2 linked regions of the Homo sapiens genome follow. The protein of the gene in region 1 purifies or fractionates together with the protein of each later gene. This does not show direct contact. Each region holds a gene or a part of one and is shown on either strand. Other genes may lie near its edges. The genes, in order: TPMT and PPWD1.

Region 1 (3,822 bases):
CTGGGTGACTGGGACCCCTCCAGGGGCCTTATGTAAGAGAAAACACAATTTTTTTCCTCTATTTAGTTAGAAATGAGAGTAACAAGCAGGCCAAAAAAAGGTGGCATGAAATTAAAGCTCTGCAAGTGTGGCATAAACCATGAGTGCAATGGAACTGTCCTTTGAGTAGGTGCCTCAGGGAGCCAGGTCTGATTGGCTCAGAGTGGGAAGCTGATGCTAACAGGACCCATCAATAGACTGAGCAGAAGCCAGGGCTGGACCAGGTACAGACGATGAGTTGACCAATCAGATGACTGACTTGGAAACTGAATTAAGAGACCAAAGAGGAATTGCTAATTAGCTGTGGTCCTACTGAAAGTTGGAGCTTTTGTATTGTATGGTGGTTGGAGCAAGGAGGCTGACCGTTGAAGGCAAGTCAGCTATGTGGGAATAAAAATGGAGGAAGCTGAGGGATAAGGAGAGGACAGGAGACGCATGCAGGGTGGTAGAGAGGCCATGAGAGACAGGCCAAGGACAAAGATGGACACCCTTCCCCACACTGAGGAAGGAGCCTGGGCTCTTGGCACTCCAGTTTCTATGGAGCCTGGCTAGACTGTGATCTATGTCCAGAGGTCTGCCAGAAGTTGGGGAGGCAAGTGCAGACTCTATGAGATGCCCAGGCTCAAACCCCAGCTCCTCTACTGACTGGCTATGTAAGCTTGACAAATTCTTAACCTTTCTGTACCTCAGTTTCCTCACCTGTAACATGAGGATAAGACTAATAACCACCTCACAAACTGTGAGAATTCACCAGTGGATCACTCTTCCTTGTAGGTGAAAGAACCACATCAAAGCAAACTTTTGAACAGAAACTGTTACTTTCTGATTCTCATTTTTCAGAAGAAACTTGCTGTCCCCATGAGGGGGATGTCAGACTGGTTTGGTAGGGTTTCCTAGGACTGAAAGACTTCATTCCTCTTAGAATGTGAAGTTTTTCTCTCTCAACCAGTCTCAAAAAGTCCAGAAAAATGAGGTCTGCCCTACTGGTTTACATTAGGCAAGAACTCGAGAGTCACAGCAGAAAATACATCAGTACTTGACAATGTACAATCTAAGGAGAAGACACCCAGTCCTAACGAAAGCACCAATATAATGTGCTAACATGGTAAGTACTGAGTACCAGCATGTAGATAAAGAACTAAGATACTAAGTACCAGCACATATATAAAATACTAACATAAGGCTGGGCACGGTGACTTACATCTGTAATCCCAGCACTTTGGGAGGCCGAGGTGGGCAGATCACCTGAGGTCGGGAGTTCGAGACCAGCCTGACCAACATGGAGAAACCCCGTCTCTAGTAAAAATACAAAATTAGCTGGGTGTGGTGGCGCTACTGTAATCCCAGCTACTCTGGAGGCTGAGGCAGGAGAATCACTTGAACCCAGAAGGCAGGGGTTGCAGTGAGCCGAGATCATGCCATTGCACTCCAGCCTGGGCAACAAGAGTGGAACTCCATCTCAAAAAAAAACCCTAAGATACTACCAGTACATAGTAAACTAATATCGCCCTTGCTCAGAGTGCAGTTCACTTCTTCCATTCATTTATTTAAACAACATTTATTAAGCTCTTACTAGGTGCTAAATATATATTATATCAGACACTGGGGAAATAACTGACCTCAGGTGATCTGCCCACCTCAGCCTCCCAAAGTGCTGGGTCCGCTCTTGGTCTGCACGTGGTGACTTTTAGTTTGCTTCCCACTGCTTGGTGGATTTTACCATGCCAACCAGAGCCTGTAGAAGGACTAACCTCTAAGGAATGGATGATCATCTTCAGGGAGTGGGAAACACCTACAAATTTAGACATTAGCAGATGGGGTTTCATATACAAATGTGTCTCACGGAGACAGAGGTCTCGGTGATATTTTGAGTTGTTAAAGGACACTGATGTCACATGGGAAGTGCAAAGCAGACACTGGACATGTGATGTGGATGTTTGGGAGAAAGAACAGAGCTGGAAATGTAAAGACTGTCAGAGCGAATACCATGTATAATCTGTTCAGTTACTTGCCCCGCCTCTGGCATACTATCTATTTGGAACATCACAGGAACTTAGTAAATATTTGTTGAATAGCTGAATGAAAGTAACAGAATTGATCTTTAAAGATTTGATTTTTCAGCCAGGCGTGGTGGCTTACACCTCTAATCCCAGCACCGGGTGGCCGAGGCGGGTGGATCAGCTGGGGTCCGGAGTTCGAGACCAGCCTGACCAACATGGAGAAACCCCGTCTCTACTAAAAATACAAAAAAATTAGCCGGGTGTGGTGGAGCATGCCTATAATCCCAGCTACCTGGGAGGCTGAGGCAGGAGATTCGCTTGAACCTGGCAGGCAGAGGTTGCGGTGAGCCGAGATAGTGCCATTGCACTCCAGCCTGGGCAACAAGAGCGAAACTCTGTCTCGAAAAAAAAGATTTGATTTTTCTCTCATAAAATTTTTTTTTCTTTCTGGTAGGACAAATATTGGCAATTTTTGGGTGAGAGCATAAGGCTGAGGATGGTGGTCCCTTGGGGAATCACGACTTTTAGGCATGCAAGGAGGATGGGAGTTCTGGAAAAGAGATAAAGGAGGAGCAGTGAGAAAAAGAGGGAAACAGGAGCATGAAAATTAAGATGCGGCATGGTCTAATTTAAAAAGATTAGGTTTGGCAGTAAGCCTTACTGATGAAACAATTTTTAAAAATAAAAATCTTATTTCACTGATGTGGAGCCTAACCTGTTTTTTTTTTGGTTGTTTGTTTGTTTTTTTAGATGAAATCTCACTCCGTTGCCCAGGCTGGAGTGCCGTGGCACAATCTCGGCTCACTGCAACCTCCACCTGCCGGGTTCAAGCAATTCTCCTGCCTCAGCCTCCCAAGTAGCTGGGGCTACAGGTGTGCGCCACCAAGCCCAGCTAATTTTTGTATTTTTATAGAGATAGGGTTTCACTGTGTTGGCCAGGCTGGTCTCGAACTCCTGACCTCATGATCCACCCACTTCAGCCTCCTAAAGTGCTGGGATTACAGGCGTGAGCCACTGCGCCCAGCCTCCTTTTTGGCCAAGTGATGAGTCTGCTCCATACAACTAAGTAATTCAATATTTCCATGCTATATCCAAGTAAGCACATAAATGACATTATTTTAATTGAAAGAGTATACAGATGTGGTCACATTTTACTCAGTATGCTTCCTCACTCATATTTTAATTTTATTTTCTAACAAGACTCGGTATAATAAGAATGGTCATCAAAAACATCAATAACAATGCTTCAATAATAACAGCTCTCATTTATACAGTTCTTTAGAGATGACAAGGTATTTCCTACATATTTCATTTCTTTCAATTCCCACAAAAATCCTTTGAGGTAGTCTAACAAAGGGATCATGAGTGTGGACTTTATTTTATTTCATTTTTTTGAAATGGAGGGTCGCTCTTGTCGTCCAGGCTGGAGTGCAATGGCGCCATCTTGGCTCACTGCAACCTCTGCCTCCTGGGTTCAAGTGATTCTCCTGCCACAGCCTCCTGAGTAGCTGGGATTACAGGCCACCACATTGGGCTGATTTTTGTATTTTTAGTAGAGATGGGGTTTCACCATGTTGGCCAGGCTGGTCTCGAACTCCTGACCTCAGGCGATCCGCCCACCTTGGCCTCCCAAAGTGCTAGGATTACAGGCGTGAGCCACCACACCCGGCCACAAGTATGGACTTCAAAGCCAAACACTCTGGTTTTGAATCTCAACTCTGTCACATACCAGCTGCTTAACTTTGGACAAGTAACTTAATCTCTTTGACCTCAGTTTCCTCAT
Region 2 (3,822 bases), on another chromosome or scaffold:
TATTAATTAATCTTACAGCATCAACCTTCTCCAACTCACGTTCTACAGCCATTCGTCGGCCAAATTCCATGTCTGGTAACTGTTGCCTCATCTGTTGCAGTTCAGTAAACATCTAGGAAATAAACCATTTAGTAACAAAAACTCTATATACATATACCTATATCTATATCAACCCATCTATCTATATATGCAATGAGAATTTAAATAGAAGCAGAATACATATTAAGAGCCACTAACTGTTTGTACTTCTTAAGAGGGATTCTAAACAATATGAAATAGACATTAGTAAGTCCAATCACTAAAAAATAGTATTTCAGGCTGGGCATGGTGGCTTATGCCTCTAATCCCAGCATTTTGGGAGGCCAAGGCAGGTGGATCACCTGACATCAGTTCAAGAACAGCCTGGCCAACATGGTGAAACCCCGTCTCCACTAAAAACATAAAAACTTAGCCGGGCATGGTGATGTGTGCCTGTAATCCCAGCTACTCGGGAGGCTGGGGCAAGAGAATCGCTTGAACCTAGGAGGCAGACGCTGCAGTGAGCCGAAATTGCGCCACTGCACTCTGGCCTGGGGGACAGAGTGAGACTCCGTCTCAAAAAAAAAAAAAAAAAAAAATTGTATTTCAAAATGGTAACTGGTTCTTCTAATTTAAAACAAAACCCGGTTGGTTAATAGAACTACTGCTTTCTCTACAGAATACATCTGCTGCCTTTTAAAAGTCACAGAGTAGCACTTTCCAATGAAATATAACACAAGCCACATAGGTAATTTTAAAGTGTCTAGTAACATTAAACAAAGTATAAAGAAAACAGGTGAATTTCATTTTAATGTTTGATTAAACTCAAAATATCCAGAATATCATCTCAACAATATAAAAAATTGAGATAACTTACATTCTTTTAAAAAAAATTAAGTCTTTGAAATCTTGTATTTTACACTTTCAGCATATCTCAGTTTGGACTAGCCATCTATCAAATGCTCAGTAGACACGTGGCTAGTGACTGTTTATACTGGATAATGCAGCTATAGACTATGAGGTCCTTGAGCAAGGTTACGTGCCTGACATAACAAGCACTCAATTTTTGCTGAATGAATTCATCTCACTAATTTATAACAAATTCATAATATTTCAGAAAATGTCTCAAGTTATTCTGACACAGGGCAGTGAGATTACCATTAGGTACATGTTATTTAGTAGACATGACTATTTCTATAAGTGTCCTTTATAGTTTGGAAATTTGGTTTACTTTTCTTTTGATATTACACAAATTTCAAGATAGGCATCACATCTCAATAACTGTATTAACATATTATGAACCTTCCAAAAGAGTAACGATCTTTACATTCTTTTCTACACAATCAGGGCATCAAACAGTAGCATTCAAAAATAGCTCTCCATTGCAGATGAAAATAAGCCAGACTTCTGTCCCATCTAATTCTATCCTTATTTCATGCTTATATTAACCATAATCTTGTGTTTTCTAGATAAGGTTAGAACTATATACAAAACTCAAAAAATCAAAATGAGGTATGTGTGTTAGGGTATAAGCACAAGGTCAAGGTCTTACAGAACAGTTAAAAAGCCTAGTTGTTAGGTTTTCTTGTCTCTAGTCTCAAAGACAGGGAGACTGATACATATTACGCTGCTTATTCATGTGCCAGGAATAGCCTAGGATGCTGGACTACACATTTTGCAGGGAAGGGCTAATGATCATTTCTGCCGGAGAGAAGACTCAGTTTTTAAGGCATAAGGTCTGTAGGTGGTCATCTGTCCCTATATAAGTATTCCATAAATGTTATCCAACCTGGTAAGTACCTGATCAGAATCTTTTTCAGAGTGCTCTAGACTTCATAGCAGGGCTTCTGTGATATTCAACTGCACAGCCATATATAGTGACCCTGGTTAATAAATACTAAAAGATAATTTACACCATCCCATTCAATTTCTTTTCTGTTAAACTAGGATTCCGACTGGTTAGAAACTACCCTCCTCCACTACCACCTCCTTGAGATTCCAGTCATTTACTAGTCACTAGCACTGTAAGTAATTTAACTGATGGTTGGCTTTTTTGGCAAACTCTCATTCTGAATCTCCACTTCTGTCTTAAGTTCTACTACTGACTTCTTGTCACCTCAGGCTAATCATTTAAGCAAATGTTGAAGACAACAATGAGCAAATAGAGTGGATTGAGCAGCTCAGAGTATGTGTGTTAAGAGATTTGTGCCGGCCGGGCGCGGTGGCTCACGCCTGTAATCCCAGCACTTTGGGAGGCCGAGGCGGGTGGATCATGAGGTCAGGAGATCGAGACCATCCTGGCTAACAAGGTGAAACCCCGTCTCTACTAAAAATACAAAAAATTAGCCGGGCGCAGTGGCGGGCGCCTGTAGTCCCAGCTACTCGGGAGGCTGAGGCAGGAGAATGGCGTGAACCCGGGAAGCGGAGCTTGCAGTGAGCCGCGATTGAGCCACTACAGTCCGCAGTCCGGCCTGGGCAACAGGGCGAGACTCCGTCTCAAAAAAAAAAAAAAAAAAAAAAAAAAGAGATTTGTGTCCAGAGACTAGATTCTGAATATTTCTTTGCCTAAGGGATCTTGGAAGAGCTGCAAGTTAATAGAATTTTAAAATTATATTTAAATTGCAAGTCATATTTAGTTATCTGCCACCATTAAAGAAAGTATTACCGATAAATGTTTCTCCTTAAAAGCAGAGTGGAAAGCTATCTTCTTCCAACAAGAAAATTTGTCATAAGGATAATTTGGCTGGCAAACAGATCTTCACATTTGTCTGGAAATATATTACTTCAGACAGACAGACAACCAACTCATTTATTACCACGTGCCACCAAATCAAGATCGCCACTAGAAAGAGTTGACAGAATTTATGAAGAGCTTACAGCAGGGAATCCAATGCAAATTGGTCACTGCCAAGGACAAAAGAACTGACACTGTCATACAATAAACTTTGCTACAAAGGTTCAATCCAGACTCAGAGGATTCAGAGAACCACTTGATGGCAATAGTTGCAATCACAGAAACCGCTTAACTGCATGGATTAAAAACTCTTATTCCACGACTACATGCTGTAACAAATTCTTGTTAGCAGTCTAACAAGTGATGGCTAGAGTCACTCTTTCAAAATATTTGAGTAACTCTTGTGTGAGGTACTGTTCTCACTGCTGGAGATAGAATCATAAGTTAAAACAGATCACATAGGGCTTAGTCTACTGGAGGTGATACACATTAATCAAATAATATGACCATATCAAATGCTCTAAAAGAAACAGTGATCTACAGTCACATTAAAAAAAACTCTGCTGGCTTGGCACCGTGCCTCACACCTGTAATCCCAGCACTTTGGGACGCCAAGGCAGGCAGATCACTTGAGGCCAGGAGTTCAAGACCAGCCTGGCTAACACGGTGAAACCCGTCTGTACTTAAAAAAAAAAAAAAAAAAAAAAAAAAAAAAAAAAAAACCATCTGTACTAAAAAAAACCCATCTCTAATAAAAAAAAAATATATATATATATATATTAGCTAAGTGTGGTGGCACACGCCTATAGTCCCAGCTACTTGGGAAGCTGAGACAGGAGAATCGCTTGAACCCAGGGGGCGGAGGTTGCAGTGAGCTGGATCATGCCACTGCACTCAAGTGCAACTCTGTCTCAGAAAATAAATTAATTAAATAAATAAATAATAAAAAATAAAAAAACTGTGCAAGACAGGATGACTAGTGAAAGCCTTCCAGGGGAAGTGACTCTTCATTTGAAATTTGAAGTACCAGTTCAATAGGTAATGGAGGAATATGAGGAGGGAGGGCCTCA

The links.
Region 2: the proteins of TPMT (region 1) and PPWD1 fractionate together in Homo sapiens (co-fractionation; one large-scale study listed by BioGRID). This does not show direct contact.

What each region holds. Positions count from the first base shown.
Region 1 is NC_000006.12:18,134,370-18,138,191, forward strand, and holds part of TPMT (thiopurine S-methyltransferase), read right to left. Parts: intron 1-3,822. UniProt on the Homo sapiens protein: Catalyzes the S-methylation of thiopurine drugs such as 6-mercaptopurine (also called mercaptopurine, 6-MP or its brand name Purinethol) and 6-thioguanine (also called tioguanine or 6-TG) using S-adenosyl-L-methionine as the methyl donor.
Region 2 is NC_000005.10:65,573,169-65,576,990, reverse strand, and holds part of PPWD1 (peptidylprolyl isomerase domain and WD repeat-containing protein 1), read right to left. Parts: intron 113-3,822; coding exon 1-112. UniProt on the Homo sapiens protein: PPIase that catalyzes the cis-trans isomerization of proline imidic peptide bonds in oligopeptides and may therefore assist protein folding. May be involved in pre-mRNA splicing.